Homo sapiens: one gene and its partners. The protein of the gene in region 3 purifies or fractionates together with the protein of the main gene of each other region. This does not show direct contact. Each region holds a gene or a part of one and is shown on either strand. Other genes may lie near its edges.

Region 1 (5,056 bases), on a different chromosome or scaffold from region 3:
GAATATTGCCGAGCAGCATGGGCCTTGCAGCCTGCAAGGTCAGGGGATAAGGAGGATGAGGCCATCTGACACTCAGGCTGTGCTGGGGCGGGGAGGATGTTCTGAGAGCCACCTTGGGTGGGCAGAGACCTAGCCAATGGTTCTCACGACCCATCCTCTAGCCCCTGCCTGTCCCCCATTCCTTTTTTTTTTTTTTTTTGAGACAGAGTTTCATTCTTATTTCTGAGGCTGGAGTGCAATGGCACAGTCTTGGCTCACTGCAACCTCCTCCTCCCGGGTTCAAGTGATTCTGCTGCCTCAGCCTCCCAAGTACCTGGGATTACAGGTGGCCGCCACCACGTCTGGCTAATTTTTTTGTATTTCTAGTAGAGACAGGATTTCACCATGTTGGCCAGGCTGGCCTCGAACTCCTGACCTCAGATAATCCGCCTGCCTTAGCCTCCCAAAGTGCTGGGATTACAGGTGTGAGCCGCTGTCCAGAGGAGGGAACAGAGGACGAAACAGAGATGGGTGATAACTGGTTCACTGTCACCCATCACTTTGGTGGCAGAAACAGGACGGGAGCCCAGGCGTTGACTCCCAGCCCAGGGCTCATTTGTCTGTGTTCCATGGAGCACTGATTGCTGCTCCATGGGTCCCCCATCCCAAGAGGCAACACAGGCCCAGAGCAGCCGGAAGGGAGGACAGATGGATCAGGAGGAGCCGAGGCTGGCAGTGTTTGCCCATTTCGCTCCCCTGGCCTGGGTCCTGCCCCAGGACCTGTTACGGAATTACTTGCCCTTTACTGCCCTAAACTGCCCCTGGGCTGGGTGAGGAGGAAGGAGGGGACTGGGCTCAGGACCAGGACCTGCAGGACCAGCGGCCAATGAGTGCGGACAATGGGGAAGGCAGCCAGGATGGTTGGGGGTGGTGGTGGGCGGGGCGTGCCTTTAGCATTTGGCAAAGTAGGGACTAGGAACTGCTGACAAATATTTTGTACCCTTACTTCAGAGCAGAAAGGCTATTTGGGAGCAAAATTCTCTCATGGAATGAAGAGCCTGTTAAGACCTTTTTTCACCAAGTAAAACATGAGGAAGCTGTGGATGTGCAGTTTCTTTCACACCTGCAAATTACACAGCAATCATTCACCCAGCAAAGGAACATTTGCTCCTAGGGGCTGGAGGGAGCTGCCGTAGGGAGGGTGAGAGGAAACTGAGGCTTCCAGAGACACCCTGTCTGCAGACGGCAGGTAGCTGTTGCATGCACCTCATCCCATTTAATCCTGGATGTTACTGGCTCCATTTCACAGATAAGGGGACTGAGGCTCAGTGAGGTTGAGAGGAGGTAGTGGGGCTGGATTACAGGGGAGGGGTCACTGATGAGTGAGAAAGGTGGGTTGGGGGACTTCCCTGAAAGCCTCTCTTTCTCTGGAACCCAGGCATCTGGGCCTCCTACTTTTCTGGCTGCCCCCAAATGTCTTTGCTAAGCAACGTAGCTGAACAGTGCCAAGAGATGGCAGTCCCTAAGGTATAACAGGAGGCACCCCCTTCTCCCCATGGGAATTGGATGCAAAGAAGGGAGAAGCCCATGACGATGTTCCCTGTGGGCACGTGGCCAGGAGTACTTGAGAAAGGCAGGGGGCTGAATCGGGACAGGAGCTGGTGTGAGGTGCGGTGGGCAGGAAGCAGCAGGCCTGGGGGCTTTCAGCCTTCAGGAAGCAGGCTGCAGGGAGAGGTGTGCAGGACACAGAGCAAGAGGAGGCAAACTCAAGCCAGTCCTGGCTCTTTGGCCCTGGGCTCCTCCACTGACCCGGGACGGGAAAGAAGCCGTCATCCCTCCGTGGAGAGTATGCAGATGGGCATCAGTGGAGGGTCCAGGGACCAGAACAATGATGACGTGCGTAGAAGGGGACTGCAGGGCCATCAGATTCAGCTGCATGTGAGGAGGAATAATCAGTCATTGAACATGTAAACAACTTTGCAGAAAATCAACCCCTCCATCCTTTCCCTGTCGCAGCTTTCTGTGGCCTTTTCTGACCCCGATCTGTGTATAAACAGAGCTTTCCCAGTTTGTCATCATCATGCATATGCAATTTAGGCCCCACCTTTCATCCACATTATTTCCCTGACATTTTGCTGTGAACACTGGACTCCTCGTGTTTATTATTTTAAATCAGCGCTTTATAGTCAGCGAGTTTTTCTAGAGAGGAAACGGAAGCCCAGGGCTGGGCCAGGGGTGGGTAACTGGGTAGTTTTATATGCACATGCAGGCACACACACACACACACACATGCACACACACACACACATGCACACACACACACACATGCACACACACACACACATGCGTGCTCACTCCTGGGCTTGGTCTGCCCAGCCTTCTGGGTAAACCCTCCGTCAGATGGAATGGCTGGGATGCCAGGGTTATTGGCATTCTGCAGTTTCTTCATAAACAAACAGCAAATCCCACGAGGGTGGTCTAATGCTGGGTAAATATTCCAACACCACCCTCTGCCCCTGGCTGCCCCCCCACCAAATTACACATTCTTTTTGTTTTTTCTTTTTTTCTTTTTCTTCTTCCTTTTTTTTTTTTTCAAATAGAGACAGAGTTTCACCATGTTGCCCAGGCTGGGCCTGAACTCCTGAGCTCAGGCGGTTCACCCACCTCGGCCTCCTAAAGTGCTGGATTACAGGTGTGAGCCACCATGCCCAGCCATCACCAAATTACACGTTCTTGATAATAGATTCCACGGGTATGTGCTATCACCAACACGGAGACTCAGAGACACATTGTGCGTAGGTCGAGGCCCATGAGCAGGGACAGTGAGGAGGTGGCTGTGTTTACTGAGCTCTTGCTCTGTTACAGTTTAGTGCCTTCTGGCAAGAGGCAAATATTATTTCCATTTTACAGATCAGGAAACTGAAATGGGTGACAACTGAAATGACTTGTCCAGGGCCACATGCCTAGTAAGAGGCAGAGCAGGATTGGAGCCCAGGTCAGTAGGATTTTGGAGTTCCTTCTCACTGGAGTCATAAAAGAACCCATTAGGCGGTGACCAGTAGCTCATGCCTGGAATCCCAGCACTTTGGGAGGCTGAGGCAGGAATATCACTTGAGGCCAGGAGTTCAAGACCAGCCTGGGCAACATAATGAGACCCCATCTTCATACACACACACACACACACGTACACAACCACCAAAAAAAATTCAGCTGGGCTTGGTGGTGTGTGTGTGTGTGTTTTTTTTTTTTTTTTTTTTTGAGTCTGTCTCCCAGGCTGGAGTGCAATGATGCTATCTTGGCTCACTGCAGCCTCCGCTTCCCAGGTTCAAGCAATTCTCCTGCCTCAGCCTCCCAAGTAGCTGGGATTTCAGGCACCCACCACCATGCCTGGCTAATTTTTTTTGTATTTTTAGTAGAGACAGGTTTTCACCACAGTAACCAGGCTGGTCTCGAACTCCTGACCTCAGGTGATCCACCTGCCTCGGCCTACCAAAGTGCTGGGATTACAGGCATGAACCACAGCGCCCAGGCTGATGGTGTGTGTCTTGTACAGGAGGCTGGGGAGGGGGATGGCTTGAGCCCAGGAGTTTGAAGTTACAGTGAGCTCTGATCATACCACCCCACTGCAGCCTGGGGAACAGTGAGACCCCATCTCAAAAAAAAAAAAAAAAAAAAAAAGAACCCTTATATCTTCCCTCGGAGCCTGTTGAGATAGTTCCAACGGGGTTAGGGTTTTGGTTTCTCAACCCACAAGCATTAGAAGGAGCAATTTGGGGGATGAGGAGGTGTTTTTGGGGGCATCTTCAAGGAACAGAGATGTCTGGGGTGTTGAGTGTTGCAACCAACAGCCCTCATATGCACCTTCTCTGGCTGTAGGAGGCGTTGTTACATTATAGGACAGCATAGTAACTGATGTGCATAATGGTGACCAACTCATCAAGAAAATATTAAGGCCAGGCGCGGTGGCTCACACCTGTAATCCCGGCACTTTGGAAGGCCGAGGTGGGTGGATCACGAGGTCAGGAGATCGAGACCATCCTGGCCAACATGGTGAAACCCTATCTCTATTAAAATACAAAAAATCAGCCGGGCGTGGTGATGCACGCCTGTAGTCCCAGCTACTGGGGAGGCTGAGGCAGGAGAATTGCTTGAACTTGGGAGGCAGAGAGTGCAGTGAGCTGAGATTGTGCCTGGTGACAGAGGGAGACTCTGTCTCACAAAAAAAAAAAAAAAAGAAAAGAAAAGAAAGGAAATATTAAATTGCATTTAGCATAAAGTGTAGTGTAGTATCTAAAAACATTTTCCTCGGGAATGGATAACACAAGTTTGAACAAATAAGGATTATATTTGGAAATTCAGTAATGTGGGATGGCTCATTACTCAGTGTTACTGAGTATATGTCCATTTATTCACCATGTGTTTTAGTTATCCACTGCTGTGTAACAAACAGCCCCAAAATTTGGAGGCTTAAAAGAGTAACAGTTTAAACCTGGGCAACATGGCAAAACTCTTGTCTCTACAAATGGTACAAAAATCAGCCAGGCATGGTAGCATGTGCCAGTAGTCCCAGCTACTCAGAAGGCTGAGGTGGGAGGATTATGAGCCCCGGATGCTGCAATGAGCCATGATCGTGACACTGCACTCCAGCCTGGGTGACAGAGCAAGACCGGTCTCAAAAAAGAATAAAAAAAGAATGACAGTTTATTGTTTCTCATGATCCTGTGGGTTGACTGTTCAGCTGGGTGGTTTTTGTGCTTCACGTGGCATGGGCTGGGGTCACTCATTTGTCCACCTGCGCTGTTTCATTCACCTGCAGCATTCAGTTGCCAGCTATGCTGGCAAGTTCTAAGAAGCCTTTACTCATGTCTGGAGCCTCAGAGCTCCTCCTCCTGACCTCTCCATGTGGCTAACTTGGGCTTCCTCACAGCATGGTGGTCTCAGAGAGAAGGTGGAAGCTATCACAGTTTTTAAAGGTTAGGCTCATCACTATCGGCTACAAGAAGTCCAGGCTAACTCAGATGCAAGAGGAAATTGATTCTATCTTTTGATGTTTGAGTAGCGTGTGTAAGGGAGGGAA
Region 2 (5,554 bases), on a different chromosome or scaffold from region 3:
AAATACTATAAGCTAATTTAAAACAAGCAAACTTAAGTATACTATACAAGAATAAAGCCACTAGTACCATATAACATATATTTGGGAACACTCAAACTATACCAAGCCAAGCAACTCTAAGACAGCAGTGCAATTCAGGTAAGAATTCAGCACCATAGATTAGAACTTCGTTTTTTCTCTACCACTGCTATTGCTACCACCAAGTCCTAAAAAAGGGCTAGAAGCACACCTACTATATCCAAAAAGCATTGGAATCTCAACAAGACAGATGACAAGGAAGCAACGCATACACTATCCCAGGGGCTTCAGCTCTTGCATTATTATGCCACTGCCTGAAGGAGAAATAAATAAATAAATGCCACTGCCTGAAGGAGAAAAGGCTTCATCTGGGGCAACTGAGAATACTCAGACATAGCAAGGGTCTGTCAGACTCCATAAAAGCTGTATACTATCAGTCCTTCTCTTGCGTGTGTGGATAAAATGTGCAGGTGCAGCCTAGGCAGGAAAGAGGGAGACAGAATTTCAGATGGAGAACTGCCATACTGCTTGACCCTGGGAGTACCCCTCCTCACTCTGCCAAGCTATGAACTACAGCCTCTACTGACCACAGCATCTGCATGATCTTCAAGGAGCCTGCCTATCAGGTAGGAATTTCTGTGCTAAAAGCCTCCACATCTGACAAGTGCTAAAAACCTCTATGATTTTTTCATTATCTTAATTCTTAAGGGAAAAAAATCAAATAAATACAATAAACGATACAGAATTTTCACAGCAAGGGCATAAGTTCTCAAAGCATATAAGGTTTATCTCAGAAAATAAACACTTCTCATTTAGTTCTATAAAAGTCCACTTCTGAATAGTGTTACTCTTGCTTCCCCAAATGCAATTTAAAGGCAGAAATCACAATCTATTTAAAGACACTCAGAAGATAAATTAGCTTAACAAAGTTAACTTAATTTTTTATATTTAATACTCTCAGATTTATGAGATAAAATATAGATTCTAATAAACAAAAGAAACATACGTAAGAGAAAAGAAAGCCATTTTTGCTTGCTCAAAAGGCTAACAGTACAATATCACGTTAAATGATGAAGAAACTTATTAAACTATCTTAGCACAAATATGGTCCCATTCTTTTTCTAAATTTCCAATGTTTATGGGCATCTTCCATGAAATAGATGAAATATCTTACATCTTCACTTTATAAGCTCTCGAGTCCTATACAACGCACTCCTATTCCTCTACCAGAGCTTTTGCAGACCAGTTTTAATAAATGTATGTCAATCACAATAAAAACACTAAGAAATTTACCAATACATAATTATGAAATTATACTTCTGAAAACATTGGTCTTCCTGAGATTCTGAAGAGAAACCCAATAGAACTGTTTTCTTTTTATTTTTTTCAATAGTGAAGACATGAAAGCATCCTCAACCCAAAGTGTAATATACATTTAATCATGGTTCCTGACAAATTTTTTCTTATGCATTAAAGAAAAGTGTTCTCACTCTTACCTGTATATCCAGCATACCATCCCCAGGAAGCTACCATTCCTAAAAGCCATTTATACATGATTCCTTCGATATACCAGAACCGCTTACTGTCCAGCACTCGAAGGGGCTGAAGTATAATTACATAGCAGATGTAGGATGGAATAGCAACCAGGTTGTTGACGACCATGAAGGCAAACCTCATCAGTGCTTTCACCAAGAGCCAGCCCAGCCACGGAGCTTCTTCCAAAGTTATAGCCATTCTCACACTGGACTCCGTCCTGTCTTTCTGGGGTGAAAGAAAAATTCACTTAAAAAGGAAAATTCATTAAATACATCTAAACAGTCACCAACATAGAAATCGCCCCCAGCACAAAATAAAACAGCGAGGGTCGAAGCTTTCCGGGTGTAGTACCTCGGTGATCTCTCAGGGGAAATTCCAGAGGGGGACAGAGAGCGAGGGAGGAGGAGCCGCACAAGGTCAAGGGAGCTGTTCACCGAGGCACGAAGTATGTCACAATATATTTAGCAAATGATAACACAATTCCCATTCAGTAATCGGTGGCCGTCCCCGCACCGTGTCTCACTGCGGTCGTCTATTGGACTTAGAAAAATAGATCCACTCGCTTCAGACAACCTCAGGATCTCCAAACTGAAGACACAAGTGACATGACCGAAACAGGGTCCCCTCAATAAGATTTCCCAGATACTGAGGACCTCAGTCTCCTCACCACCACGATTCCTGCACACCGATGCATTCCTTTAAAAGGTCTCTGGCTCTAGCGAAGAGTTACCCTCAAAATTCTCATTTGTAGCAATAGGGTTTTTGTTTCCCTTTTTTTTTTAAGAAAAAAAATGGGGGGCCTAGAAAAAAAGCTTACAAGGTGAGAGGAAGAAAGTAGGGGGTTATAATGCGAAAAAGAGGAAGGACAGGAGTAGGGGGAAGGGAGCAAAAGCCAGAAAGAGGTAAAAGCCAAGGAACTGGGGATGAAGAGAATGAGATTTCCGACCAGAGGGCAAGGAAGCAGGGGATGATGAAAGGGGCAGAGAAGAGGCGACCGCAGCGCGGGGAGCCGGTGGAGCCTGCAGCGGTTTCCGCGGATGTGGAAGGGTCGTGGCGGCGGGCGCGGCCCGCGCGCCGGGCTCACCTCGGCGGGCGCGGACGGCGGGCGGCTGCGGAGAGCGGGGGCGGGTGTCCCCCGCCGAGGGGTCGCGGTCATGGACGCGGTGGCGGCCCAAGCGGCCCGAGGCGCTGCGCGAGCGGGCGCGCTGGCGCCCTACTCCCCTCGCGGCTGCCTGCGGACAGAGGGACGGCGGGGACTCAGAGGCCGGACCTGTCACCCGGGCGGGTCCCGGGGAGGCGGGCGGATGCCCCGCGCCCCCGCCTCCTCCCCGGGGCCTACCGCGCCCTCGTCCCTCAGGCCGCTGCCGCCTCCCCGGGCCACGCGACGACGACACCCCCTTCCCCGCCCCCAGCGCCTCCCCTGGCCCGGCTCCGCTGCCGCTCTGGGGCCTGCGACCGCGGAGCCGGAGGTTACCTCGGGCTGGCCGGGCCCCAGCCGGGGCTTTGGGAGTCAGAGGAGCCGGAAGAATGCATGGCCGGCGGCGGGGCCGGCGGAAGAAGGCGGTGGCGGGGCCCTGCCCCGCTCCGGCTGTGGCGCGGCCCGCGCCCGTTCCCCGGCGGCGCCGAGACTCGGTCCCCAAGGGCCCGGCCGCGTTCGCCCGGACTGGCGGGGAGGGGCGGCGGGAGGAAGCGGCGGGAGTCGGGACTGCGGCGGAGCCGCTCCCACAGCGCCCTCTAATGAAAGCGCCGCCGCCGCTGCCTGGCCCGCTTGCCCCGCCTGGCCCGCTCCCCCTACCCCTGCGCCAGCGAGTCGGGGCCCTCGGGGCTACCTGGACGCTCGGCCAGGACCTCAGTGAGTCCAGAACATACTGAGGGAAAGGGCCGCTCGGAAAGATCTAGGAATGAACACCCATCCTCACACCCCAGGAGTGCCTTGGTTTCAGTTGAGAGCCCCCTTTCAGCCAACACGGCCGCCTTTCATTGTTAGGGCTCTCTTCTCTGCCCAAACTAGGAACCTGTCTCCTTGACGGCTAAATGTCCACTTTTCATTCTTAATGAAACCCGGTTGCACTCATGGCTTTTCTTCTTAACCTCTGCAGTGTATTATTGTCTAGAGTTTCAAATTCATTCTTTTTACGGTCAAAAGTCTTGTTTCAGGAAAGCAGCTGGAACATTAATGGCAATTCCACTTTCCCATTCATCGCCCCCGCCCCCACCACCCCACCAAGAAACTCAGTGGGAATGAATGGTCTACACAGAGAAACTGAAATCTGGTTAGTCAAGAAGGAAAAAACAACCAAGTGCCTGGCATTAAGTAAGTACTCACCCGCCCGCCCTCCCCCGCCCGCCATAAAAAGAAAAACCGAAAAGACAAAAAACAGTGGCCATGGGAACTCCTAGACAGACCCCGTCACTTGGGATACTATAGCTGCATTCTGGTTCAAAGGCTGGACCACCTGAAGGAAAATAGAGAAATAGTCCATTGACCTACCCCCTTGAGCATTCTTAAATGATCTGCCTAAATTTTAGTTTTTAAAAATCCTGTTTATAAAACCTTATGTCCCTTAAGCACATTTGTAAATGGAGGGGATGGGGCAGGGCAGATTTCACACTCCCTAGGGAACTGCCATATTTGAATCAGAATGCCACCTATTCTGCCTATTTTGAAAATGTTCATCACAGCGTTTGCTCTGGACTCTCAACTTTCTCTAATTTCAGTTCCTCTTAGGTCCACAGGTGAAGGAAAGATATGCCCCATTCTATTCCTTGCATTCTCTCTTTATTGACAAGGTAGTAAGATCTTTAAATAAATCTCATGAGAGAGATAATATATATACTTTATTATTCAAAATATGTCATTATATTCTTCAGTAAGATAGGTGAGGTACATATTTATTTCCACAATCAAGAATAAACTCTAAGGATTCCATCTGGTCCATGCAATTCAGCTTTCCCACATGCTGCGTAAACGTTGGCTGACACCTGGAGAGAGATAACCTACAATGGGATTTACACGTGATTCCTGGATCAGGGACCATCTGCCAGAGGACCAGACACAGCAGCACTTGATGAAATGCAATTAGTACCAGGCCCAGAATTCATTTTCAGGCTCAGAAAAGAGCCAGAGGTTGGGCAGGACCTCTGGCTCTTTAGTGTACAAAAACAACACTTGAAGTGTCTACCAAAGAGACAGATTCTTCAGCATCATACCAGAACATTTTAATAATCTAGGTCCAGTGGACCTGAGAACCTGCTTTTTAAAAAGCGTCATAGGTGATTCTGATGCAAGTAGTATGCAGACCTTGCTTTAAGAAACCCTGACTTAGAGGTATTCTGAGATGATCACATTCTCTTCTAGACCCTTCATAATTTTAAATCATTTGATCATATGTGTTCTCATGTGTGTTAGTCAGCTAGAGCTGCCATAACAAAATACTGCAAACTGGGTGGCTTAAACAACAGAAACTTATTTTCTCGAAGTTCTGAAGGCCAAGATCAGAGATCAAAGTGTGGGGAGGTCTGGTTTCTTCTGAGGCCTGTCCCCTCGGCTTGCTGATCACCATCTCTCATTGCAGAATTCTGCCATTTCAGTACCTCCTTATGGAAGGAGTAGGGAATACCTAATCTCCTTGATCTTTTCAGATATCCTCATATTAACTGCTTCCAACCTCATTGGACTTTTCTTGAAACTCAACCAACAGTACAACACATTATGTTCCAGGTATAGATATGCCCTGGTTTTGTGCCAAGAGTGTAGGAGAGGGGTTATCTTCTTAACTTTCTGACCACAATATCAGTTTCAAGATAATTCAGCTGCTATAATAGATAAGAAACTGTTAGGGCTGACTTCTTAAGGGAACAATTTCAGATGATGCTTGTGTTTATTTCTTGCATTTCGAAGTTCGTTTTAGTTAGTTTTACCTTCCTCTTGCCTATACTACAATTTTTTTGCCCTGCCTCCTTTCAACCACTTAGGAAGCCTCCTGAGATTGTTCCATAG
Region 3 (5,562 bases):
ATGACATTCCTAGATGGTCAGACGAAGGCACAGGACCAGGACGCAGGTAAGTAGTAAGTGGGCTCCAACAAGGCTCAGTAAAGATTGTAAGTAGAGGCCGGATGCGGTGGCTTACTCCTGTAATCCCAGCACTTTGGGAGGCCGAGGCGGGCGGATCACAAGGTCAGGAGTTCAAGACTAGCCTGACCAACATGGTGAAACCCCGTCTCTGCTAAAAATACAAAAATTAGCTGGGTGTGATGGCGGGCACCTGTAATCCCAGCTACTCAGGGGGCTGAGGCAGGAGAATAGTTTGAACCTGGGAGGTGGAGGTTGCAGTGAGCCGTGATCGTGCCACTGCACTCCAGCCTGGGTGACAGGGTGAGACTGTCTCAAAAAAAAGAGTGTAAGTAGAATATGACCTGCTCCCCAAGAAATCCATGGTGCAGAAAGAATACTGGAGACCCAGGAACCTCTCCAAGGCAGAGAATGACAAAACCACCAGGATCCAAAAAGGCGAGTGGGGAGGTTGACTATTCAGAGGGCAGGATGAGGGTTAACTTCTGTAATCCAGACTCACCACATTTGTTGGGACAATAAGCTGTGTCAAAAGAGAAAAAAAGAGAGCAAGAAAGAGATGACAGAGTCAGATTTCTAAATGAAAGACGATGGAAGAGGGGGTTGGGGGAAGAGCTGGGCTTTGGGCTTTTGGGTTCGAGGGAGAAAAGACTTGGGTCTGAAGGAGGAGGCAGTTGGGGAAGCTGAGGAACTGGGCTTGGAGAAGTAAGGGGCTGGAGACAAGGACTCTTGGATAGTGGAAAGAGGAGCTGGGGGACACCGACTCCCATCTTCTCTCACCCTCTTTTTGGAATCGAGCAACATAGGTGGCAAAGGTTTCCTTTTGCAAGTGCAACATCCAAAATAGCTCCTTCACGAAGAGATCGCCTGGGAAGACACAGGAACCCCCAATCCCACGTGTGAGGTGTTGGAAGTTTACTTCTGCCTGCAGAGTCTGGCAGTCTACTTCCTGGCCTTCTCAGGAAAGGGCGCTACAACTGACCGTCTAACATAATGCCAGCTGCTGGGCTAGGCAATGCATATTTTGGGGGATGGGGGAGGGTCTTACCCTGCCACCCAGGCTGGAGTGTGTGGTGTAATCGTGGCTCACTGAAGCCTCAAACTCCTGGACTCAAGCAATCCCCCCGCCTCAACCCCCCAAGTAGCTAGGACTACAGGCACACACCACCATGCCCAGCTAATATGTATACATATGTCTATTTTTTGTAGAGACAAGGTTTCACCATGTTGGCCAGGCTGGTCTTGAACTACTGAGCTCAAGTAATCTGCCTGCCTCAGCCTTCCAAAGTGCCAGGATTACAGGCCTGAGCTACCGTGCCCGGCCAGCAATACACATTTAAACTGAACAACTGAGGAAGCATTTTAGAGCCAAGGGAGCTTCAAAGTCCTTTGCTCAAGGCCGTACAGCTAGGAAGTGGCAGAGCAGGCATTGGAATCTAGGCGGTCTGGGTCCACAGCCTAGTATCTGACCAAGAGACCAGGCATCACTAACGCTGGCTTCTCTGAGAGATTCGGGACTCCCACCCCCTTGATGCATTTACCTTTTACATCACTGTCTGTGATGCGTTTCAGATCCTTCAGCAAACTCCAGGACCCCTTTTGCAGTGTGGCCTCATCTGTCAGAGGAGATATAACCCCAGATTCCAGCCTTACTGTCTCATTGGCGCGCCTAATCTTAGAAACTACAATACCCATGAGGCCACTGGGCAAAGATAGGCCTGGTTAAGGACTCAGCCGCCCGTTGCCTTCTGGGAGTTGTAGTTTTATTACATAAAATTGCCAGCCGAGGATAGGGAAAACGGTATTTACTAGCCTCGGGGAACCTCGGAATCTGCATCTCAGCCTTCTCCATTCCCGAATCCCGGAGACCCTGCTGTCAGCCTCTTCCTTCCCCTGGTCTTATCTCCCTCCTTTCCCAGGACCCAGGGGTCCGTGGTCCCCCCTGCCCTCACCAACGACCCCCATATAGGCATCCTCATTAAGCGACAGTTCCTGGAAATCCTTCACGGCATTCTCTACCCTTTCCATCATGGCTTTGTGATGCTTCGCATCCAGGTGGCCAGGCAGGTAATCTTTCTCCAGGGACTTTAGCGCCAGCACGACAGACGGGTCACATATAACACACCCCTCGGCAGGAAGCAAGCAACCGGCCAGCGCCGCACACAGGAGGGTAAAATGCGGCCCCATTGCAGCCGGCGCGCACAGTTCCCGAAGACCGTTAGGAAGGGTGCTCTCACCCCAAACCGAGAGCAGGAGAACGCTAAACGGAGAAAAGCCAAAATCCATCTTAAGAAATCCCACTGGGCCGCCTATCCATGGGGTCCGCAAACCTCGAAAAGAGGATCTTCAGGAAATCTCCAAATAAAGAGGACCTATGTCCTTCATCAAATGCCTCCGAAGTGTGAAACTGAGCCCCAATCCAGGGGACCCAAAATTTAGGGTTCTCACTGAATCCCCCAACTGAGAGATCAGAAAAACTATTAAACAGGAATCACTCATAAGTCCCCAAACTCAGAACCTGGAATCTCCCAACCCCATGCGCCCCTTCCCAAAATCCCAAACTGTGGAATTTTCCAAGTCCCCAGATTGACGTGAGCCTGAACTCCAACCCTTAAGAGCAACACCGAGGCACTCCCCCGCCAGCCCCCCAAAACCTGTTGAACCTCAAGCTGAAGATTCAATGCCCAAACCAATAAACATCTAACACAGACCCAACCACGATATTATCAAACTCGGAACTCCTTCAAAACCAAAACACATACCAGATTCCTAGAACTGAGGACCCCACTAACACTTAAGCGAGACTCCATGCGGTCCTCTAGACCTAGGGGGCCCTTGTTCACCCTTCCCCAAAACTAACGGGCTCCCAATTTGCAGGGCGCACCCTTCCGCTTAGAAAAAGGAGCCCCGATGCATCCTGAACAGTGATGCACCCTAAACAGCCGCTCCCCGACCTTGGTTCCCGATTTGTGGCCTCTAACACTAGGGTTCATTGAGGAGCCCGGTCCAGGTTCTGAGGGCTTTTAAAGAGGAAGCCGGGGTCATGACCACCTACGCTAATTTTCCCAGGGGTAAAATCAAGGATTGTGTTGGGGACGAGGGTAAGGTTGGTTGCGTGAAATCGAGAGCTTTTCGACGGGGTCTGAGTCACGGACGATCCCCTCTCCACAAGGAACTCCTGAAACCACCCCCTCCGAGCTTCTCACGTAGGGGCCCGAATTCCTTTATAGATATTCCTTGGGGTTTTCCTCGGCCCCACCCAGAAACTCAACTCTGTCTGATTGGACTGCAACAAAGGGAGGTCCCGCCCATCGCTCCATGACGTCACAGAGGCTGCAGCCTTTTTGGACTAGAATTTTCCCAGCATCTAGGGAAGAGGAAGCCTCCTGACTACTCTGGCTTCCAGAGTCAAGGACCGGACTCAGGCCTTCAGTTTCCTCCCCTCCCCTTGCCCCAGGACCCAGGCTTTGGGCTAGATCCGGCCCCCCAGGCCGCTGCCGCCCCCACCGCGGTCCTTGGAAACGGCTGTCGAGCCACGAAGTGGACATTTTAGCCCTAAGACTACAACTCCCAAAATGCCCTGGGGCCTCTTTCTCTGTAGCTGACTGACGCTGCCAACCTCATAGCTTTCCGGGAAATGTAGTTCAGTGATAATCCGCTCCCTCCTCCGCCTCTTCTGCCCACGCGGAGGTCCCAGTGGGAGGAGAGGACTGGGGGCCAATACTGACAGTCCAGGAGTGAGCAACTGGGGGCTCAGACGTTAGGGTCCTGGAAGGTCTCTCTCTCCTGTGTGATAGAAACAGGGAACCAGAAAAACAGGGACCACAACTCACACAAGTCCAGCAACAAGGGGCTGTCAGATCTAAGTAGGGACAGTACTCCCAATCACGAGTAATAAAAATCCTCAGGGCCCGGCGCGGTGGCTCACGCTTGTAATTCCAGCGCTTTGGGAGGCCGAGGCGGGCAGATTGTCTGAGGTCAGGAGTTCGAGGCCAGCCTGGCTAACATGGTGAAACCCCGTCTCTACTAAAAATACAAAAATTAGCTGGGCATGGTGGCGAACGTCTGTAGTCCCAGCTACTTGGGAGGCTGAGGCACCAGAATCCGAGAGGTGGGAGTTTGCAGTGGGCCGAGATCACACTACTGCACTCCAGCCTGGGCCACAGAGCAAGACTCGATCTCTGAAAAAAAATAAATTAATTAAAAAAAAATAAAAGTCTTCAGAAGTACCCCACCTTTTCCTCCACTCTCTTACACACACACACACACACACACACACACAAACCCACACACACATACACAGTGGCTCTGGCTCCAAAAAAGCTACAGAGACACGGGTTAGTGCTGTAGACTTTTAATTCATACCTCCTGCTCTCTCACCCGTGGCAGCTGAGTTGGGAACAGTACTGTAACAATTGTAACTGTAACTCCCTGATAAGCCTACAGGCATGGGGTCTGGATGAGTAGACAGGGGATGTGATCAGAGCTGACTATGTTTAAGGTTTCTTCTTTCACCCTCCAAAAAACAGCAAGGGGCTCCTGAGATCTCGACAACCCCGTCCACCTTGGCCAGACCTCGTGCTCCTGCCTGGATCTGAGGCTGGGTCCAGGGTCTGCCTACCTTTAGATCGTTTTATCTCAGACCTGCCCAAAGCCAGATGTAGTGGTTCTGGGAGTTCAGGGACAGACAGTGGTTAGCAATGAGCACGGTACCTGCCAGTTTGTCACAAGCACAGAGGGTGTGTTTATACCTGCACACTTCCAGAAAACAGATCCCAGACCCTCAGCAGCCCACCTGCAGACAAAGACCAACTTCCTTCATTGTGAGAGGCAACCTGAACTCACACCCAATATATGGAGCTCTTGGCAGTTTATGAGCTTTAAAAAAAAGTGTCCCTGGATCCCTGGAAAGTTCTGCTCCAGAAGCTGTACCATTTTGGCAGTGATCCCTCACCCCACGTTCACATTTTAGCCTGTCTGCTCAAAACAAACAAAAAAAAGTCTTTGAGGGGCTGTGGGGCTTGTTGGACAGAGTCCCGCTCTGCTCACCAACTACCCCAGCTTTTCCAGAGACTGTGAACAGAGCAAGACGCTGGCCAACTAGAGATGGTTTGTTTTCCATCTCAATTTTTCCAGCAATGGTGGAACATTCATTAGATGCTACAATTAGGTTGCACATTCATTAGATTCTTCACTTGGCCCGGTGTGCTGGCTCACATCTATAAACCCAGCATTCTGGGAGGCCAAGGTGGGAGGACTGCTTGAGCCCAGGAGTTGAAGAACAGCCTGGGCAATATCACAAGACCTCGTCTCTACAAAAATTAAAAAAAATTATCCGGGCCAGGCATGGTGGCTCACGCCGGTAATCCCAGCACTGTGGGAGGCCGAGGTGGGCAGATCACGAGGTCAGGAGATCGAGACCATCCTGGTTAACACGATGAAACCCCGTCTCTACTAAAAATACAAAAAAAATTAGCCGGGCGTGGTGGCGGGCGCCTGTAGTCC
Region 4 (4,684 bases), on a different chromosome or scaffold from region 3:
CCATTTGGCGAAACCCACAGAATGGATGGACAACACCAAGAGTGAACCTTAATGTCAACCATGAACTTTAGGTAATAATAACGCATCAATACTGTGTGTGTATATGTGTTATGGGGTGATATGAAGGGGCCTCCTTGGTACTTTCTGCCTGATTTTTCTGGAAACCTAAAACTTCTCTAAAAAAATAAAAGTCTATTCATTGAAAAAAAGGAAGTGGGAAAGGCAGCCACTCACCTTCATGGAACGCAGCATGCAGGAAAGAGTCATCAAAGAGAAGGCAGCGCCCTTCTGCCCAGCACTGGGGCTCTCCCCCCACCACCAGCTCACAGCCATTTGGAGTTTTCAGACCTTGTAGGAAAACCAGAGAAAGGAGAGTGAAGGCAGGCAAGATTCAGGGAAGGCCAGGAGATAGGGGGTGATTTGCCTTACTGAGAGTTTTTGACTTCTAAAGCACCTGACCTGCCTCACACCTCTGGAGCCCGTGCTATGGTCTGAAGGCTTGTGGGCTTGTGTCCCTGCAAATTCCCATGTTGAAACCTGACCCCAAGGTGATGGTGTTAGGAGGTGGGGCCTTTGGAAAGTGATCAGATCATGAAGGTGGGGTCCTAATGGGAGCAGCATCCTTATAAAACAGGCCCAAGGGAGCTTCTTTACCTCCTTTTGCATCTTTTTTTCTTTTCCCTTTTTTTTTTTTTTTTTTTGAAATGGAGTCTCTCTCTGTTGCCCAGGCTGGAATGCAGTGGTGTGATCTCGGCTCACCGCAACCTCCACCTCCCAGGTTCAAATGATACTCCTACCTCAGCCTCCGGAGTAGCTGGGAGGCACTGGAGTAGCTTACAGGCACCCACCACCTCACCCGGCTAATTTTTTTGTTTGTTTTGTTTGAGACAGAGTCTCACTCTGTCGCCCAGGCTGGAGTGCAGTGGCGCGATCCTGGCTCACTGGAACCTCTGCCACCTGGGTTCAAGCGATTCTCCTGCCTCAGCCTCCCGAGTAGCTGGGATTACAGGCACCTGCCACTGTGCCAGGCTAATTTTTGTATTTTTAGTAGAGATGGGGTTTCACCATCTTGGCCAGGCGGGTCTTGAACTCCTGACCTCGTGTCCACCCGCCTCAGCCTCCCAAAGTGCTGGGATTACAGGCGTGAGCCACTGCACCTGGCCGAATTTTTGTATTTTTAATAGAAATGGGGTTCCACCATGTTGGCCAAGCTGATCTCGAACTCCTGACCTCAAGAGATTTGCTTGCCTCAGCCTCCCAAAGTGCTGGGATTACAGGCATGAGCCACAGCACCTGGCCTGACATCTTTTTTTTTTTTTTTTTTTTTTAGATACAAGGTCTTGTTCTGTTGCCCAGGCTGAAATGCAGTGGCTCCACCATAGTTCACTGCAGCCTTCACCTCCTAGGCTCTAGAGATGCTCCAGCCTCACCCTCTTGAGTAGCTGAGACTATAGGTGTGCACCATCATGCCCAGCTAATTTAAACTTTTTTTTGTAAAGATGGGGTCTTGCTATGTTGACCGGGCTGGTCTCGAACTCCTGGCCTCAAGCTATCCTCCCACCTTGGCCTCCCAAAGTGTTGGGATTACAGGCAAGAGCCACTGCTCCTGGCCACCTCCTTTCACCATGTGAAGTCACAGTGAGAAGGTGTCATTTATGAACAAGAAGCAGGCCTTCACCAGACGCCAAATCTGCTGGCACCTTGATCTTGGGCTTCCAGCCTCAGAACTGTGAGTTCTACATTTTTGTTGTTTATAAGCCACCATCTAGATCTTCACTGCACTCTTGGCAAAAATTCATTCCTTCATTGGCTTCATCTATTCTGGGTCATGGATTCCTTTTATGAAAGTCACAGACTGACATTTGCACTACACTCTGAAGCCTAACCAGGGGACCCCCAGAAATCCAGGGAGGTTGGGTTTAGAACCTTGCCTTACCCAGTAACTGTGTTTACTGTAGTCTCCCCTCTAGGACTATCTCAGTTGCGATTAAAAAATCAAAGGCTCACACAGTGTTCTCCTCCTTGGGTTCTAGCCTTTTAATCCGTTTTGAGGCTGGAGAATGGCGTGCTCTTCGTCTGCCCTCATTCTGGGAAACTGGAGGACACTTCTAAGGTAATGGCTTAGGTTCAAGAGGAAATAGACTGGCAGCTTTGTAAGAAGCCGTATGCTTGGCTGGGCACAGTGGCTCACACCTGTAATCCCAGCACTTTGGGAGGCTGAGGGGTGGGCAGATCGCGTGAGGCCAAGAGTTCGAGACCAGCCTGGTCTCAAACATGGTGAAACCCTCTCTCTACTAATTATCCAAAATGAGCCAGGCATGGTGGCAGACGCCTGTAATCCCAGCTACTCGGGAGGCTGAGGCATGAGAATTGCTTGAACCCAGGAGGCGAAGGTTGCAGTGAGCCGAGATTGCATCACCGCACTCCAGCCTGGGCGAATCGCACCACTGCACTCCAGCCTGGGCAACAGAGTGAGACTCTGTCTCAAAAATAAAAATAAAAAATAAAAAATAAGCCGTATGCTTCAACCGGCCAGTGGGGTCCGGTTGGAACACTGCCATGTGTGACCCTCAGTCGCCCTTTCCAACACAAGGGTCTGCAGAAACACTTGGCCCCCATCACTACCTTGATGTCCAGAAAAGAAGGGGCCACCGTGGCCATCTAATGATTTCAGAAGGGGTTGGGTCAGCCCAACAGCTCTCAGGAAGGCCCACCCAGGGGGAAGCAGAGTCCTGGAAGAGGAGCTGGGATGGGTGGTGGTCTCATCTGTCTTCAGTGACTCACTGTGACCACAATGACCCTGGGCCAGTTGGCATTCCCCTCTGATTTAATGTCCTTTAGCATAAAAATGAAATAGCTTTCCTTCCAGCAGCCAGAGTATTTTAATGTATTCTTTGAACCAGAAATAATGGTTCCAGGAAGTACGTTCACAGTAATAATTCAAATAAAGAGGCCACATGGAGGAGACAGAAGGACGGAGGACTTGGGGACAGACGACTGGTTGTGACTCTTATGTGCTGTGTGACTTTGGGCAAGTCACTCAGCCTCTCTGAGCCATACCCTCACCTGTAAAGAGGGGACATTAGCATACTGAACCTTCCAGGGCTGCTATGGGACTTCTATCCTTGTTACCAATAACTGAAGACCTACTGTGTCTTCCTACTCAGCTTTGTGCTAAATACACACTTAACAGGTATCACTTCACCCACTTTCCAGATGGGGTAACTAAGAAGTTAAATGACCTGCTAAAAAGTTACCATTTAGTGTTGCTGAGTCAGCCTGACTCCAAAGAACAGGCTGTTATAAAACTGGACATGATGATATAAATGCTAGTTGTTATACTATTAACAGAGGAATTAAAGTGATTGTGGAGTTTTCGATTTTTCTTTATTTATTATTATTTTTTTTGAGACAGAATCGTGCTCTGTCGCCCAGGCTGGAGTGCAGTGCCATGATCTCAGCTCACTGCAGCCTCTGCCTCTTGGGTTCAAGCAATTCTCCTGCCTCAGCCTCCCGAGTAGCTGGGATTACAAGTGTGCACTACCGTGCCCAGCTAATTTTTGTATTTTTAGTAGAGATGGGGCTTCACCATGTTGGCCAGGCTGGTCTCGAACTTCTAGCCTCAAGAGATCCACCTGACTCGGCCTCCCAAAGTGCTGGGATTACAGGCTTGAGCCACTGTGCCTGGCCTGATTGCTGATTTTCTTGTAGTTAACATGTCTGATAGTTAATACTGAGTTTCAACTTGATTAGATTGAGGGATACAAAGTATTAATCCTGGGTGTGTCTATGTGGGTGTTGCCAAAAGAGATTAACATCTGAGTCAGTGGGCTGGGGAAGGCAGATCCACCCTTAATCTGGCAGGCACAATCTAATCAGCTTCCAGCAAATATAAAGCAGGCAGAAAAACATAAAAAAGTGAGACTGGCCTAGCCTCCCAGCCTGTATCTTTCTCCAGTGCTCGAAGCTTCCTGCCCTCAAACATCGGACTCCAGGTTCTTCAGCTTTGGAAACTGACTGGCTTTCCTTGCTCCTCAGTTTGCAGACAGCCTATTGTGGGACCTTGTGATCATGTGGGTTAATACTTAATAAACTCCCCTTTATATATATATGTGTGTGTGTGTGTGTATGTATGTATGTGTATATATATATATGTATGTGTATATATATATGTATATATATGTGTGTATATATATATGTATATATGTGTGTATATATATGTATGTATATATATGTATGTGTATATATGTATGTGTATATATGTATGTGTATATATGTATGTATATATATGTATGTATATATATGTATGTGTGTATCTATATATATGTATATATATGTGTGTGTGTATATATATGTATATATATGTATGTGTGTATATATCTGTGTGTATATATATATCCTATTAGTTCTGTCCCTCTAAGAGGACCCTAATATGTTTCAACTCTCAATAGTACATTTCATTAAATCAGCTGAGACTGCTCATCCTGACAGAAGCCATGATTTCCCACTATGGTTAACAGCAGCTGGGGGAGTCAGGGCTGTAAAGACGCCCAGATGGAGGGACTCAGAGGCTACGTTTTCCTTTGGCGTGTGCCCCTACTGGCTGGTTCAGGTGGCGAAGGCCTTTAGGAATGGGCAGTTCTCTGCAGGGACAGCCACCCCGGGGTTTCAGAAAGAAGCTCCC

The links. The genes of interacting proteins can lie anywhere in the genome.
Region 1: the proteins of IZUMO1 (region 3) and ADCY3 purify together in Homo sapiens (affinity purification with mass spectrometry; 2 studies listed by BioGRID and IntAct, with this or other methods). This does not show direct contact.
Region 2: the proteins of IZUMO1 (region 3) and LPGAT1 purify together in Homo sapiens (affinity purification with mass spectrometry; 2 studies listed by BioGRID and IntAct, with this or other methods). This does not show direct contact.
Region 4: the proteins of IZUMO1 (region 3) and ASPHD2 purify together in Homo sapiens (affinity purification with mass spectrometry; one large-scale study listed by BioGRID and IntAct). This does not show direct contact.

The regions. Positions count from the first base shown.
Region 1 is NC_000002.12:24,909,819-24,914,874, reverse strand, and holds part of ADCY3 (adenylate cyclase type 3), read left to right. Parts: intron 1-5,056.
Region 2 is NC_000001.11:211,827,545-211,833,098, forward strand, and holds the start of LPGAT1 (acyl-CoA:lysophosphatidylglycerol acyltransferase 1), read right to left. Parts: upstream 3,220-5,554; 5' UTR 3,029-3,219; intron 2,795-3,028; exon of another isoform or gene 2,711-2,794; coding exon of another isoform or gene 2,501-2,710; exon of another isoform or gene 2,249-2,500; coding exon of another isoform or gene 2,222-2,248; exon of another isoform or gene 1,906-2,221; intron 1,780-1,905; coding exon of another isoform or gene 1,753-1,779; coding exon 1,515-1,752; intron 1-1,514. UniProt on the Homo sapiens protein: Lysophospholipid acyltransferase involved in fatty acyl chain remodeling of glycerophospholipids in the endoplasmic reticulum membrane.
Region 3 is NC_000019.10:48,743,616-48,749,177, forward strand, and holds the start of IZUMO1 (izumo sperm-egg fusion protein 1 isoform 1 precursor), read right to left. Parts: upstream 3,295-5,562; 5' UTR 2,820-3,294; intron 2,318-2,819; 5' UTR 2,245-2,317; coding exon 2,010-2,244; intron 1,674-2,009; coding exon 1,599-1,673; intron 925-1,598; coding exon 838-924; intron 581-837; coding exon 560-580; intron 1-559. UniProt on the Homo sapiens protein: Essential sperm cell-surface protein required for fertilization by acting as a ligand for IZUMO1R/JUNO receptor on egg.
Region 4 is NC_000022.11:26,438,123-26,442,806, reverse strand, and holds part of ASPHD2 (aspartate beta-hydroxylase domain-containing protein 2), read right to left. Parts: intron 349-4,684; coding exon 235-348; intron 1-234. UniProt on the Homo sapiens protein: May function as 2-oxoglutarate-dependent dioxygenase.